Regions from separate parts of the Homo sapiens genome. Here region 2 is linked to region 1. A link means that fine-mapping ties the variant in region 1 to the expression of a gene that starts in the linked region. Tissue or cell type: testis. Region 1 holds a variant in brackets; the other region holds the start of a gene. All regions are shown on one strand. Distances are between the middles of the regions.

Region 1 (7,813 bases):
TTTTTTTGAAGTTTAATTTTGTTCAGCAGAGGAATATACTCTAGGAGCATTTACAGTTCATTTTCAGTCATCAAATAACATACATCACTTCCAAAACGTAGCCTCTTGTGTGCAGAGAAATTGCCTTCCCACAGCATTCACAATGTAAAAAGACCTTTTGGATTAAAGGGTCAGACTCTTTCTATGTAACAAAAAGTGGAATGCAAGTGACAGATGGACTTATTATTGTGCAGAAAAAACGTCTGAATGTATGCTAAGAATTCTCCGCCCTCCCAGCTCTTTACATGCTGGAACCTAACTCAGATGCTGGGTCACCAGCACAGGAGGGCCTCTGATAAGGAAAACTGTTTAAAGAGTACCTGGTGGCTAAAAGTCAGGTCATTCATCATGCAAAATGTCACCACTTCTTAAACTGTTCTGTAAATTCATTTCATTGGTCAACTTTTAACGTGCATATGACCTTTAACAGTTCTGAAAAATAGCCTTGGCCAGTAACACGTACTTCTAGTTCACATATGACATCATGAATGTTCTCTGCCTAAAGCACAGAGTCCATTCAGGGTTATACAAAGAAGCAGTGGGAAGACTTTAGAGTCCTTCAGAATGACAGCTTTCACAGATGACTTCAGTCTCTCCAGACTAATGTCAGCTGAGGCAAACAAGCGCTGCACAATCCCAAACCTTTCTGTATCTTTCAGGGGAGTCAAGGTTGGGTCTTCAAGATCAGATACTCCATCATCAGACAGAGCACGAAGCTGAAATGACACATTTAAACAAATTCACTTTTAAAATGTCCTAAAAAATCCACATTGGATAGTAATGCACTTGTAGGTAATTCTGGGGGAAAAAACTTTTTGAGATGGAGTCTTGCTCTGTCGTCCAGGCTGGAGTGCAGTGGCGTGATCTCGGCTCACTGCAACCTCCAGCTCCCAGGTTCAAGCGATTCTTTTGCCTCAGCCTCCCGAGTAGCTGGTACAGGTGTGCGCCACCATGCCCAGCTAATTTTTGTATTTTTAGTAGAGATGGGGTTTCACCGTGTTGGCCAGGCTGGTCTCAAATTCCTGACCTCAGGTGATCTGCCCACCTCGGCCTCCCAAAGTGCTGTGATTACAGACATGAGCCACCACGCCTGGCCAACTATGTCGTTTTTTAAATTTCCCCAAATAGAGCAGGAAAACCCTTGAGGTGTAACATGATATATTTGATCCAGGCCAGGACCTCAGGCCTGATTCTATCCAATTTGTCTAGTGTCCTCTGTCTGAATCCCTACTCTCCAAACTCTTTCTACTAGTCCCATTAACTCCAGTACATTAGAAAGGTTAGAATGTACTTTGGTCATATATGCAGTATGCTTAGTTTTTGTTTTACTGAAGATATTAGAACTTTCTTATATCTTTGCATGAACTCCTCAAAGGTAGGTACCATAGTTTAGTTTAATTATCCTTCCTGCCTCAAGAACCTTTTCCCTTGTTATTCCTTCTTCCAAATTTCCCTGTTGATCTCCCCTTCTCATCACTCAGTTGTCAGCTGAAATGCCACATTGAGGGCCTTTCCCAATCCCTTTCCATCTAGCTACCCCCAGCCCCAGAACTCAGCCTTATGTTACTCCATTATGTTGTATCCATAAACTTACTATATCTGAAGTAATCTGCTTGATAGTGTTTAGTCACCTTCCCTTATTTAACCCTAAGCTGCTCGTGAGAGCAGGGACCTTGTCTGCCGTGCCTACAACACAGACACTCAATGTGTTCTTCACCGAGGTCACTTTGGATGCTGCTCTAATTCCACTGCTCAACACATACTTGAAATATTTGATTTGCTTTTAGGGTCTTGATCTGTACCCGTAATATTTTACAAATCTTAAGCAATTACAAATTTACCAGTAGATTTCATTTTGAAACAGGCATTCAAGATCTGATTAATAATGTAAGTAGTAAAATTTTAAATTAAATTAAAAATGAAATAAGCCTAGAAAGTTTGCCTGAATTTTAAGAAATCTGAAGGGAATCCAAAAGAAAAAATTCCAGAAATTTCCTGAGCAGTGGTGACTATCTTGAAAGTCATGCAGCTTGTCCAGGTAGACTGAAGGGTAGCACTCACTGGAATGTAAAAGTACTTGTGGGTTTATTATCAAAATCAGCCTCACGAACCTTGTAGATTCGCCAAATACAACTCACACAATGTAACCACAGGCTTAACGTTACCATTAGGCTCAGACTGCAAACTATTGATTGTGCTTTAGAGAGTAGATTAGACCTGCTCTTTAAGCACAGCATCACACCCCAGTGAATTAAGGAGGAGCCCCACTGGCGCAGGCTGGAGACTGTCAACAGCATGGCAGGCTCCCTGTCCTTACCACCTGGTGGATGAGAGCTGTGCAGCATTCGGCTTTCTTTTCTAAATATCCACCACCCCCTTTGCCCACAGGCATTTCTAGGTATAAGGGGGAAACGGTGACCCAGAGGGTGGTGGAGTGAAGTTAACATTCTCTACTGATTCTAACTCACCCTTTCACCAGTTCTTGGAAATGTGTTAGTGTATCTGGCACTGTACTCCCAAAAGCCCTTCAGAAAGCCTCTCAAAGTTACCCTGGCTACTAGACAAGAAAAGACAGGGCTGCAGATGGATTTTGTGCCGTTTTAAGTAAATCCCTTAAAGAAACATGACGCTCAAATTCCTTCAGGAGGCAGACACCTCGATGTCTTAAATAGAGCTATTGCAAATCTGAGGGGAGGTATGTGAAGATACCCAGGAAGGTCTTTACAGAAAAAGGAGGTCTTTGACTATGTTGAGCAGTGCCAAAAGGCAGAATGTGCAGAAGCAGAATACCTTCCATTCTGAACTCCGAATGTGTTCTGGCTGCTGCTCTTAGAACACCAACAGAGCAGAACTTGGGGGTAATACAAATGTCCTAGAGCTGATCTGCAGGGAGGAGGACAGCTAAGTGTGAGTTTGTCACAGAAGGGGTTAGATAACAGTTAGATAACATGGGCTTGGCAGGATTTTCTTTTTATTTGCTTCAGTTGCAGTTGATGAATCTGTAAATACTTGGGAAGGACTAACTTAGTAAATGCTGAGCACTCAGTTGCTGCAAGAGGAGCTGAGATCTGAAAGCAGAGCTGTTGTTTTGCTCATCATTGCATACAATTAGAATAATGGCACGTATTGTTTCCATAACCAGACTGTGCCACCAGCCTTTACCCTCAGCTGGCCCAGGACACACATGCTGGCACATTTTCAAGTAGTTCCATTTTTGCAGTCAGTGGACAAGCATGCATGTTCCTCTGGGCCTGTGGAATCTTTCAGTTGTGATACCTGATCTGCTCCTTGGAATGATGCCATGCTGCATAGTCTTCTAATGTCTTTGCTATGCACAAAGGCACCAACCACATTACTCGGTGTTCCCAGAGTAGATGTATACCAAATGTCAGGGTCCTGTCTAGGCAGTCTGCCCCAATACCTGCTTCCCAGATCTGACAGCAGAGCTCTGAGAGATGATCCTTTGGGCCAACATAGCAGGTTGGCCTTGGACTTTAGTAATTAGGCCTTAAAATAATCAGACCGTGTGTGCTCAGCTCCTCTGCCCCAGGCTGAGCAACATCTGCAAAAGCTACACAAGACTAGCTGCCCCATCAGGGTGGCTTCAGGGCAACCTGTTGGTGGTTCTTTCTACTAATGGCTCAATCTATAATTTAAAAAGGAAAAGCTTAATCTTGACTCTCTAGGGCTAAGCTCATCATTACCTAACTCATGCTCTTAGAATGACATTTCCAGAGGGGGCACCAAGCTAACGATATTCCTGAAAGTGGATGAAAGAAGCTATGTCTCCCTGGGACAGATCAGTCCTGGATACCTCCCTGGCAAATCTGCTGCAGAGCTCAATCAAACCAGTCTTAGCACAAAACTGCCATTGCAAATAATATGGTGTCAGGCCCCTTTATTGTAATGTAACACCAAACCTTGGCCAAAATTCTCTCCAAACAATGGGAAAAGTATAAGAGTTGGAGTCGAAAGACAAGGATGAAGTCCTGGACCTGCTAACAAGTTATTTGGACAAATCATTTTCCTCTGGGTCTCAGTCTTCCCATGGGGTGGGATGTGTATAAAAGTGGGGTTAATAACAATACTTACTTAATGTGTCTTGAAGAGCTGTTGTGGTAAGTCCTAGAGGTGTTTTACCGGCTGCTGGATGTCTACCCCCTCATCATTTCCCCATTCCTATCCATTCTAAGGTCCCACCTGGGAGGTTGCTTACCAAGTGGCACAGTGTGGGAATGATCTGGAGTTTGCAGCAAGTGCCCAGCAGAGCTGCTGCGCTATCTGGCATTTCTGCAGGAGAGAAAAATCACAGTCACAGTCCAAAAAAACAAGTCCATGGGAACAGAGCCAGCCCCTGGATGGCACCTAACTTATATTTTAGTACTTTCCCGCCAGCCAGGCAGGGGAGGTACTCAGCAGTTGCTGAGTTAGTGAATGAATGGTGCTAAATGGGCAGCAAAGACCTTGTAGAAAACAGATGTAGGAACCCAGCTGCCAGCTCTGCATTCCACAGAGGATACTCCTTGACATTCAATTTACCAAATGGAAAGAACTGCCCAGACTCTGGGGGAAGGAAAGGAAACAGCATGGAAAAGCAGACCCTGCCATCTGGTGACAGAAGAGTGATGTTTGAGACCCTCCACACATTCAGGCTGCAGCCTCAGGTACACCTCTCTCAGCCTCAGTTTCCTCATTTACCATAGTTGTTTTGTTTTTGCATATGTCAGAATACTGTGTAAACTATAAAGGGCTCTACCCCATCACCAATCATTTTGGGGAGGAAAATGCAGTGTAGCTTTATCAGTGCAGCGTGGCCTGAGGCCAGGAGCAGCAACAGCAGAAAGTTGGAGCAGAGCTGTGCCAGGCTAGGGGCTGCACCAGAAGGGCCCTTGCCAAGCCCCAGGGAAGGGAATGCCAGATCAGTGTTATTCAAAGTGGATATTAAACACCTCCCAGGGAAAACACAGATACAGTTCTTAAAAGGACCATAGTCCCTTGGGGGTACAAGCTTTGAGCTGAAAAGGCAAAAAAGAATGAGTCAC[G/C]TGCTGAATCAGGTAGCCGAGGGACTGGTTAGGAACTCAGTTGTTCCTGCCATGTGTTAGCAGCCTTATTTGTAAAGACAGTGTGTTGTTGAGGTGTGACCCAGAGAGTACATGGCTCGTTCTCAAGAGAGAGTGTAGGCTATTAAGGGGGTGGGGCAGCAGCCAGGGGGATGCTTCTTTCAGAGAACCTAATGTGGTATTCAAATGTGTATGCATTTGTCTGAAGAGAAGATCCACAGTTTCTCAAGTAGTCTCTTACCCCAAAGCAGGAAGGTGAAGACGGAAAGCCTATGTGGCCTAGCGTATCCAGCTGAGCCTCTGTCCCCAGCCATCTCATCTGCCATTACTGCCCTGCCTTCACTTTCCAGGGTGGCTCCTGGGACCCAGGTAACCATCATCCTCATCTCTTATTCTTGGAAATACCTGAGTCCCATATTACCCATTTAGCTGCTATCTTGAGTGTGGTACACTAGGTGCTAGGGGCACAGAAATGAAAGAACAGCATCTGCATTACCGAGCTTACCCACTAATTTTACTACTTGACTCTGATTTCCTGGAGGGCCAAGACTTGATATTTACCTAGCACTGCCTAAAACATAGTATAAGCTTGTTAAATGTTTCTTGAACTGAAATTATTTTGATTGCTCTTCCATGTACCAATTCTATTTTACAAATAGAGTCCAAGGAGTTGAGACCTTTGGAGTTGCTTAAGGTTACAAAATAGTGGAGGAAGCTTCCCAGGAGACAGGTCACATGTGGGACTGAAGTGCTGAAAACAGCTATTAGCCAGAAACTGGTGTGAGGACCTACGAAGACCCCATTTTCTATTCCAGCACTTTCCTCAGTTTTTAAGGAGAGAAGATTATATTAAGAGGAAAAAAAATGAACTCAGAAGGGCGGAGGATTAGCAAGAGCACAAATGGAAGGGCTGTATGCCAGCCTGGCCTCCACTGGGACTGACATATAAATGAGATCACAGTTCAGAAAAATAAAGGGCAGGATTGGTTGAAAAATTTAGACATTGCCAGCTGCACCTAAAGATTTCACTACCTCTGAGTTTCCAATTCAGAAACAGCAAGTCAGTCTCACATTATGTGTCAACTGCGTGGCCTGCTGCCTGCGTGCAAGCTTGCAGAGATTTTTTTTTTTTTCCAAGCTGGACTGCAATGGCGTCCATAGTTCACTGCATCCTTGAATTCCTGGGCTCAAGCAATCCTCCACAGCCCCTCAAGTAGCTGGGACTACAGAGGTACACACCACCATGCCTGGCTAATTTATTTTTTGTACAGATGAGGTCTTGCCATGTTCCCTAGGCTGGTCTTGAACTCCTGGGCTCAAGTGATCCTTCCACCTTACCCTCCCAAAACGCTAGGATTACAGATGGGGGCCACCACACCCAGCCAGTTGCAGAGAATTTGATGCTGTGTCTAGGCTCAAGTAGAAGGGGACTGTGGTGCTTTCATGATGCTGGCCCTGTGTTACCTACTTGGCATCACTGATCCAGGCTATTGATAGAAATGCTGCAATAAGTAATGGGGTATATGAAGAAAAGACCTCTCACAAGTCGGAGAACTCTGGCCTGTGTATTAGCTCCTGACAGAATGCCTGTTCTGAAAGACTCTAATACCCGGATGTTAACATTGGGAGAAAGTCTCTAGTGGAGTTCCGCAGGGCTCTGTCTTATGTCCTGTTTCAGTTTACCAGTCAAAACTATATTTATCCATGAGTTGGAACAAGACAGAGCATATATTTATCAGCACATAGAGTTGGGACAGGCATTCTCTCAGATTAATTCTTTAAAAACTGAAGATTACTGGGTCTGTTTCTGTGTGGTGCTAGGGAGGAACCCTGAATGTATCAGAAACTATGTGTCCTGACTAGTGTCACCATGAAGGGAAGCTGTGGGGACTGGTTTGCCACAACTGGCTTTTCTGAGAGGGAATAGGAAGCCCAGCTTCCTCGTGACAGGCACTGTGGCATGGCGAGTTCCGGATGGGAGGGGTACAGAGGTGGCAGAGATTGTTCCACAGTAACTGGATGGCTGCTCCCCTGGGAGGCCATTTCAGGACCAGTGCAGAAGCTGTGCATCTGGGCCCAGCCACAGCTCTGCCTCCCAGCCTAGTACATTGGATGGTTGAATGCTCTCCACAGCCCCCTTGCCCCAGACAGGAGCACGCAGGGTGGGGAATAACAAGTTTGCAAAGATCAGAAGGACTGAAATGCTGGAGGAGAGCAGTTGGCAAATGAAAGTTGCTGCCACTCAGCTCTGCTGGGACTCCGGAGTGAACCACAGCCTGTCAGGGAGATGCTTGCTTTTGTAGGCAAAGGGGCACCCACTGTGGCCTTCCCTGGGGGAGGAGGGAGAAGGGCCCTCCGGGAGAGTAGGGAGGCTTGTGCTGGATGGAAAGGCACAGACTCGAGACCGAAGGGGGGTTTCCCATCAGCCTCCCACCTCTTACCCTCCCTGTACCAGAAGGGAAGGACCTGTATGTACCATATCTTCCACAGTTACCACCTCTGTGTCCCCAGAAGCATAGATAGTAGGCAAAGCATTTTAAAGCAGCAGCAGCCATTTCTTTCATTTTCTTTTCTCCTTACCTGCGAGGGCACTGACCAAGAAGTAGGCTGTCATAAACAGCTGCTTGCTGCCTGCATCCTCGGGGCCCGGACACCCACCCTGTAAGCTGCACCCCACCAGCTGCAGGAAGGCCACAAGGTCCTGCTGCTGCCGG
Region 2 (7,987 bases), 130 kb before region 1:
GGAGATAAATTTAAGCTGTTTTGAAAGGGGACTATTCTAGTCAATTGGCAAAGAGTCTTAAAGCACAGGATTAGGAATTTTAATTTGATTACTCGAGGTAATTTGGAGCTACCCCACTGTTGTGAAGATTTGGTATAAATGTTGTTTGGAAGATGATTCATTTCCATAGTTCTTAACTCTGGCTGCGTATTAGAGTTATCTGGAGAGCTCTGAAAAAATCCTGGCACCCAGGCTGTGCTCCAGAGCAATTAAGTCTGGGATGGCATCAAAGCATCAGTGCTTTGTTTTGTTTCTTAAAGTTCTCTGGGTGATTTCAATAAAGAGCCAAAAATTAAGAAGCACTGCTCTGAGTATAGGATAAATTGCAAGGAAGCAAGAGAGAGGCTAGAATTAGAAAGGTTAGCAAGGAGGCTGGAAATTGGAATCTGACCTAGCTTTGTGAGCAGAGATAAAAGGAGTGAAGCTAAATAAAGTATTCTGAAGGAAAACTTGGTTGGACTTTGTGATGCATGCCAGTTGCATTTTTAAATAAAGCTATCCTCCAGGAGTGTCACTGCTTTTACTATGATGGATTAGTTGAAAAACAAGTACACAGGATTTGCTTTTGCTAAAATTCGGGGCTATTAGCAAAATTCTCAATTTCTGTAGGAGCAAAGCAGGTCAGAAGAGAAAAGAAAATGTAATCACATTAAAAGTGTATGTTGTTTACATTTGAAGGAGGAAACAAAATTGAGTGATGGATGCTCCTGAATTAAGAATCAAAATTCAAATTTTAAATTGAATTACCGTTGGGAGATACTGGGCTGTGGTAAAATTATGATCCCTTTAGAGTAACCTTGAAGGAAATGAAAAGTCAGACTATTAAGGACACTGAAGAGAAAGATCCACCATCATTCTCAATCATATCATTCCCCTTTCTTGGAATGAAGAATTTGTAACCGGTATGGGAAATGGATGGTGGTGTCTCAGTATGATGACCTCTCAGAAAGCTGAGTTGGGAACCAATGATGGGAGTTCCAATGTTTAACTGAGAACACTTTAAATTTATCCTGGCATGTCCCACCTTTAAAGTTTAGAGGAAGGGCAGAATGTTATAAAATGGGAATATCATTTATAAAAGGAAATAGTGTTTCCTTTTATAACTGTATATGAGTATTTGATACAATACTCATCTGACACTGAGAGAGGAACTTCACCGGCAAGAGCTTTCTGAAGGGGAGCAATCAAAGACAGTTATTGGAGCAAAATCATTTTTCTGACTCTAAGAATGAAGCTGAGTCTTACGGCAGTGATAAGCCTCCATCTGATAGCTGCTGTCATTACTTAGAGCACAGACTTGGAACTGCAAATGAAAGATAATTGTTCCTGTATTCCTGCTCCCAAATGCTGGGTCTCTGGTAGATGCAGAGATAAAGCAGTTGGCCAGGAGTGGTGCCAGCTTTAAGTCAGGTAGGTCTGCATGTAATTTGAGGGGCAGAGCCTACCCCAAACCCTCCCTCCCTAAAACTTCCTCAGTTAACATCATTCTACTTGCAGGGAGCAGGGGTAGAGTAGGTTAGGACATTGTTTCCAGAAGACCCTTGAGGAAATAAAAGTGCACTATTAAGGATCACTAACATATCTGGAAATGACATTCATACCCTACCTCCCACCCCAACCCCAGAGAAGCTCAGGGCAAGTAACTAAGTGGCTGGGTCCAAGGGGATGTGTTAAGGTTAAGAGTCAGAAGGGAAAAGAGTTCACAAGCCTGGGTAGGGTACAGCAGGGAGGACCCATGGGTGTCCTGTGAGAAGCAAGTGGGCCTGGGGCAGCAAGAAGGACCTGAAAGGTCTTGCTGACACCCCGAGAAGACAAACCCCATCCTTCCGCTTTGTCTCTGCCTTGGGCTCCGAGCCCACTCCACTTCATTTCATCCAGCCATCCTGACTACAGGGGGCCCAAAGCTACTCTGTGCCCTGGGCACGTTTGAGTCTCCTTAAATGCTTCCAATTACCTTTGCCTGGGTTTGTGGTTCCAGGAAAGAAGGTTCTAAATTAACACTGTACAAGGCCCCCCTGCATGTTGGTTTGCAAAATTAATGATCCTAATGGAAAAGTAAATTAATCTTTGATGCTTGGTTGAGGATAAACACAAAAATCACTGTTTTGGACACTGGACCTTCTTAATACATCTCATCAATAGTATTTTCTCTCTCCCTTCCATGCCTGCCACATTCACAAAGAGAGGAGACAATACAACTTATAACTTCATCTCTGAATCCAAAGGGCCATGATGCACGCATTTATTCTGCAAACACTTATTAATGGTCTGGTTTGTGCAAGGTGCCCAAGAGAAGCCAGGAAAGGCTGCACAGAGGAGGCCACCTCATAACACTCCTCACACGTAAAGTTTGACTTGCACTTTCTACGTTCATGGTTTGAAAAGATTGCAGTAAGCATTTTGTAAAATGTAAATTACATTCTTCAATTTTAGGAAGAACACAATAGTTTTTCCAAAAGCCGCCTGTCACAGGTCTGAGGGTTCACAGAGCTCTTTTAAGGGGATCGGAAGTTCTCTGGCTGCCTTGCTATGTTTTTCTAGCCAGAAGTCTCTGCTGCAGTGCATTGCTCAGTTCCTTTCAACTGAAAAATTAAATCTGCACTTCTGTCAAAATGTGTCATCTACACATCCGGACACTCATCACAGTTCACCAAGCTCTACGCAGAGTCCAGGCTGAAAGGATGGCATGCCCTCCCCAACCCCACCCTTTTGAGGTCTGGGAAGCCCAGGTGCTGGGGAGGAGCTGAACAACTGTGTCCAGGGAGTGTCTGGCAAAGCCGACCCAGGGAGTTCCACGGGAGCCTCGGTGCTATGAAAAGAGCCAGTGTCCATGCATTTCCTCGGGTGTGAATCACACTGCCCGGTCGGGCCTTTGGGAAAAAATTAATGAAGGACACAGTCAGCGCCGTAGAACCTGCCAAATACACATCAGATCCAGTGGAGTCTGTGAAGGGGGAGGGGGAGATTTTTCCAGAGGCTTTTCTTCTCGTTCCATTTCTCTTTTGTGCCCCACGACTGGGTTCTTGAATGTAAAACTCTCAGAAAGGTCAGGGCGGAGCCTGTTTTATGCCCCGAGGAGTATCTTGCCCACCCGTAAATGCTGACAGACAGCTGCGACTTCGGCCCAGGAGACCCGGCGGGGACTGGGTCCGACCAGCCCTCTCTCGCGGGCGCAGGTCCGGGACCCCTGAAGCGAGCCGGCCGGGCGCAGAGCGCAGTCAGTCTGGGCGCTCAGAAGCTGGGAGGGGGCTCCACCTGGGCGCCCAGCCGCGGCGGGAGGGGCGGGGCCCGGCTTTCCGGAGGCGGTGGCACCTCCTCGCGCCCGAGCGCGCGCTCCCCGACGTCCGGCGCACGCGCGAGGCCGGCTGGGAGCGCGCCCAAGCGGCGGCGGCGGCGGCGGCTGGAGGAGGAGGAGGAGGAGGAGGAGGAGGAGGAGGGCGGCTGAGGCGCGGCTGGCTGCGCGCGCGGAGGCAGCGGCGGGGGCGACCGGAGCTGGGGCAGAGTGGGGAGCGAGGGAGGGGGAGGAGAGAGAGGGAGGCGGAGGGCAGTGAGAGACGCATTTCCAGTTCTCAACTACGAGCCACGAGTTTGCAGATGGGGCTGCTCGGCGGCGCCTGTGGCTGAGGGAGAGCAGCGGCGGCGGGGAGCGACCGGGAGCGGCGGCAGCGGCGGCGCGGAGGCGGCTGAGGTGCGAGCCGGTGAGTTAACTGGACCCCCACGCCGCTCGGGTAACGGTCGCGCCGCGCGCCGGGCCGGCCGGGGGCGCCCTGTTGCTCGGCGCGGCGCGCCACGCGGGGACCCTGGCCCGCCCCGCCCCCCTCGGCACCTGGGCTTCGGCGGGCGCGGGGAAGAGGGACCGGCAGGCGGCGGCGGCGGCGCCGCGGTCGGGGAGGCTGCTGGCCGCCCCCAGCCCGGCCCGCGCGGAAGGGGCGCTCGGCCGGGCTCCTGCCTCTCTGGCTGCGGGCGGCTGGGCGGGCCGGAGCTCGGCAACGTGTCTGGCCCATGCTGCTTGCCGCCGCTCCCCACGCGCTCCCCGGCGCGGCCCCGACTGGGGCTAGGGCCGCAGACGCGCGGGGCCCCTTCGGGCGCGGGGCTTGGGTGCCTACACCTCTGCGGCGGGAGTCGCGGTGGAGCCTGAATGGAGAGCCGGCCTGGGGGCGGCGTTGCTGTGACTGACACCTCCGGGGTCTGTCCCGAGAGGGGGTGATTCCGCCGGCTCCCGGTTCTCTCCCGAGCTCGGAGTTGGTAGGGGAGGAGGCTTTCTCCAACTACCGCCGCTACTTCCGAGGTACGAGACTCCAGTTGTTTGGCCAAAGTGGCTGTGGGCCGAGCACAGGCTGCCGCGGGGGCGTTCGCTGCTGAGATCGTGCTCGCGGATTCTCGGTACGTTTGTCTGAAACCAAATAGGTGCTGGGGCTTTTTTATTTTGGCTGGGTGGAGGGTCAGCAGGGGAGTCGATTGAGGTATCCGACCGTGTGGTGACAGGATGTGGATTGGTTGGTAGATGTTTTTTTGCAGAAGGACTTTTTAACACTTTACTGGGAGTTTATTCTCAATCCTACCAGTTTCTGGGATTGCAGCTCGAGATTACATTTGTTAAACTTCCATCAGTTGGGTGTGCATCTGTGTAGGGGGTGGGGGTGAAGCGAGGGAGAGAATTGAAGACTGCCGGGGAAGCTCAGAAAATTCTCCGCATTACTTATAAACAGCCGGGTAAGGTCAGGCTAGCCACGTTTTATTCTTTCCTACGCCTTTGGAGAGTGTTGGAATTTTACTTTGTGCTTCAAGTATATTACAAGTGGTCTTGTAGTGTAGCTGAGAACGTTTGGGGTGCGTTAAAATGCGTTTCAATTGGAGTATGATTTAGCAGCCATTTCTTCCCGTGAAATTTTGCAAATCATTTGTAAACTTATGTTGGTCGAATATACCAGGCGAAGTAACATTTTTAGTAATGCGGTATATAGTTTCCGTATATAGGTATAGCAACGGACCTCAAGTAATATTGCTTATTGTAGGCATCTACTGTGCAATGATAGGGTAGTGGGTAGTAGGCCTGATTATAGTTATGTCTTCTGAGGCCTTGTTAACAGTAAACAAAGAACTTTTGTGGGTTGTGTCATTTTGAGGTCATTTGTACCTTAAATCTATCATATATTTAAATAGGTGTTTAAATGCGTGTTTGCACGATGTGTTACTCTTTAAGGTCCATGTTTCCTTCATTCTGGACTACGGTTACATAATACACAAATGGTAACACTTTTAATTGCTCAATTTTGTCCTATGGAGACTGCACACCATCTTTATGAAAGAGGTGTGTATGTGTCCTTACTGATGCCACCGAATTCTTGACATCTGGAATGTCAAAATGAATTATTTTGCATTCTAGGTTAAATCAACACTGGAAAAATTAAGGTGTTTAAGCAAGTCTAGTAGCTCTATATAAGACAGAATCTTTTTTTTTCTTTAGGCCAACTGTTGGATTTTTAAAAATGAATCATATTTTTAAACATTTGAGGGAGCAGTTTGCTTCTGAGTCTCATTTTAGGCTGAAATTGTTCCAGAGCACTACATAGCCTGCTTCTCTCTTTCTCTCCCCACTCCCCCTCTTTTTAGCTTGAGATAACCAAGAAGACATAACTGTGACTCTATGTGTTATCTTTTTAAAAAGTTGTTTTAAAATTGAAGTTGCTTGTTTGAATATTTACTATCCCTTTACATGCTTTACTACTTAATAATGGATTAGCAGAATAAAACAGATATTTTAATTAAATGTCTTTCATATTTTTGACATCTGAGCTTTGTAAAAATGGAGTAGCATCATATTATTGCTGAGAGAGTTACAAATAATACAGGATTAGTGCTAGTCAAAGGCTAATTGTAAAAAAACAGCCAGAAAATAAAATTAAAAGAGGTAAGAGGACGCATTTATACTTTTGACATCACTCTAATATAAATTACCTATTGCTAGGTGACTTTTGAAAAAGAGTATCTTGTAAAATTCACATTAGGTATATAATAGTTAATAATTTTTCCTTCCAGAGTGATTCACTTGATGAGTGACTAGATTTTTTTTTTTTAAATCAGAACTCTACTTCAGGTAAGTATAGTTAACCATGTAAGTGATGTGCTGATGTTTATTTCAGGAAGAATGAACACTTACCCATTTGATAAATACTGAACTGTTTGGGAATATGTCAGTTATTCCTTAAAACTTAGGCGGAGAAAAATTATGCTAGTTTTGTTTTAACTGTAGGTTCTTTAGAAAAGTAGTCTTCACATTTATAAATATAAGAGCAGATAAGCACAAGAGATCTCTTTCCTGATATGGTGCTAGTATTGAATTAAAGATTTTATTTTTTTGTTGTAGGGACCAGTTTTGTTTAGTCTTCCTGTTCAGTCTCACAGAAGCTGCAATGATTTTCCTCCTTTTCTGTTACTTGTATCTGACCACTGGGGGGAGACTTTACAATTGGGCTTGACCATATTCCTTCTTTACATACATTGGCTGCTAATCCTGGGCACTTTGTCAAACTGCTGGGTAGTGTGCTGAGGAGGATGCACTCTGAAGCAAGTCTCAATCAAGGTGTTTAATGACTTTTCTTTCTTTAACTCACAGCATGCTTACAAAGTATCATTCTTTATAGACTGTGTTATTAACAGTCTACTGTTAAGTGGTCTAAGTATGCCTCTAACATAATGAAAGATAAGATTCCTGAATACATTATAGCTTTCAAAGATCCGACTTTACTTGCATTAATCTTAGAAGCAGTGTAGGTTTAATTGCTTGCTTAGAGTACACAGATATTAGTTGTCTGGAAGGATCTGGAAAGATCATCACTCTTCTGTGAAGTGTATCTATATCCAAACCCTTTAAACAAATTGGTCTCCTCTTATAAAAAGCTTTTGGAGGAGAAGATATTGAAGCATCCCATGTAGCTAATTTTAGTGTTCATTTCACCGCAGAGGGGAAGTTCTTCCTTTATCATAGTCATATAGATAAGATTAAAGCCCACAACTTTGTTAACCATTAAGCTGTGACCATTATTACCAGGTGTAATAAAGTCAAAAGCCTGGTTTCTACTTTTTCTTTTCTGACAGTATTTAACCTTGTTAATGTCCAATTCAATAATAATGAACTCAGTAAACAGAGGCTGCTACGTTTATAGTAGTTTAGAAAGAACTTAAGTTTTATGACCTTCCTTAATTATGATAGACTAATTCAAAGACCTTTCTATAATCTTTATCATAGTAAGTATATTCACAGAGTAATGAACAGAACAAAATTAGTTTCTATTTTTCCTTCATCCTAGGTTATTTTCCTTCTTTCCTTTAAGATGACTTTGCTTTCATCCGAAAATTCTTTTTTCCTTTTTTCCTTTTTTTTTTTTTTTAATATAGTGTACTAGAAGAGATACTTTCTGCTTAGGAATATATTCATCTCTGGCTAACTTTAGGATTGTGTTAAGTACTTGGGAATGGAAGTTTCTAAAAGCCTATCTGTCAGAGTTATCACTGATACAAGGCAAAATGAGAATTAAAGACAATATAATGAATATTTCATAAAGCTCAAGTTATTTTCAGATCCTTTCTACTGCTTGCTAGTTTTGTACATGATTTAATCCCTCCTTCACCAATTTACATCTTTTCCTCTTAAATCTATCATTTCTTTACCCTCTTCCTCCACTTTTTGCTATATTTCATCTACATTGCCCTTCATTTTGTTCCTCATCAATGCCATGGCTTGCTCCTAACTTAGGGCTTTTGCACTATGTTCACTCTGTTGGGAACTCTTCCTAAATCATTACATGAGTGACTACTTTTCATCATTTCATGTTGTAGTTCAAATATCATCTTTTCAGACAAGCATTGCTACCTAACCATCCTTCCAGAATGACACTAGCCTCATCCCCCTCAATCCCATTACCTTTTTTACTTAAAAATTTCTTCA

The links. PIP is the estimated chance that this variant, and not a neighbour inherited with it, causes the effect.
Region 2: PALS2 starts here. The variant in region 1 is fine-mapped to the expression of PALS2 in testis (GTEx, PIP above 0.99).

The regions. Positions count from the first base shown.
Region 1 is chr7:24,698,505-24,706,317 of GRCh38, forward strand. GSDME (gasdermin E) reads right to left here. Exons shown (of 10, transcript NM_001127453.2): 8 at 7,680-7,813; 9 at 4,256-4,329; 10 at 1-755. The coding sequence ends at 522. Among named protein-coding and RNA genes, the nearest start is that of GSDME, 55 kb to the right of the region's middle. RefSeq lists silencers at 3,286-3,580, 6,415-6,584. The variant G/C (reference allele first, on the strand shown) is at 5,082.
Region 2 is chr7:24,569,857-24,577,843 of GRCh38, forward strand. It overlaps PALS2 (protein associated with LIN7 2, MAGUK p55 family member), which reads left to right and starts at 3,596. Exons shown (of 12, transcript NM_001303037.2): 1 at 3,596-3,737. RefSeq lists enhancers at 2,745-2,814, 2,835-2,934, 3,800-4,299, 4,245-4,294, 4,345-4,464 and 1 more and a silencer at 3,075-4,144.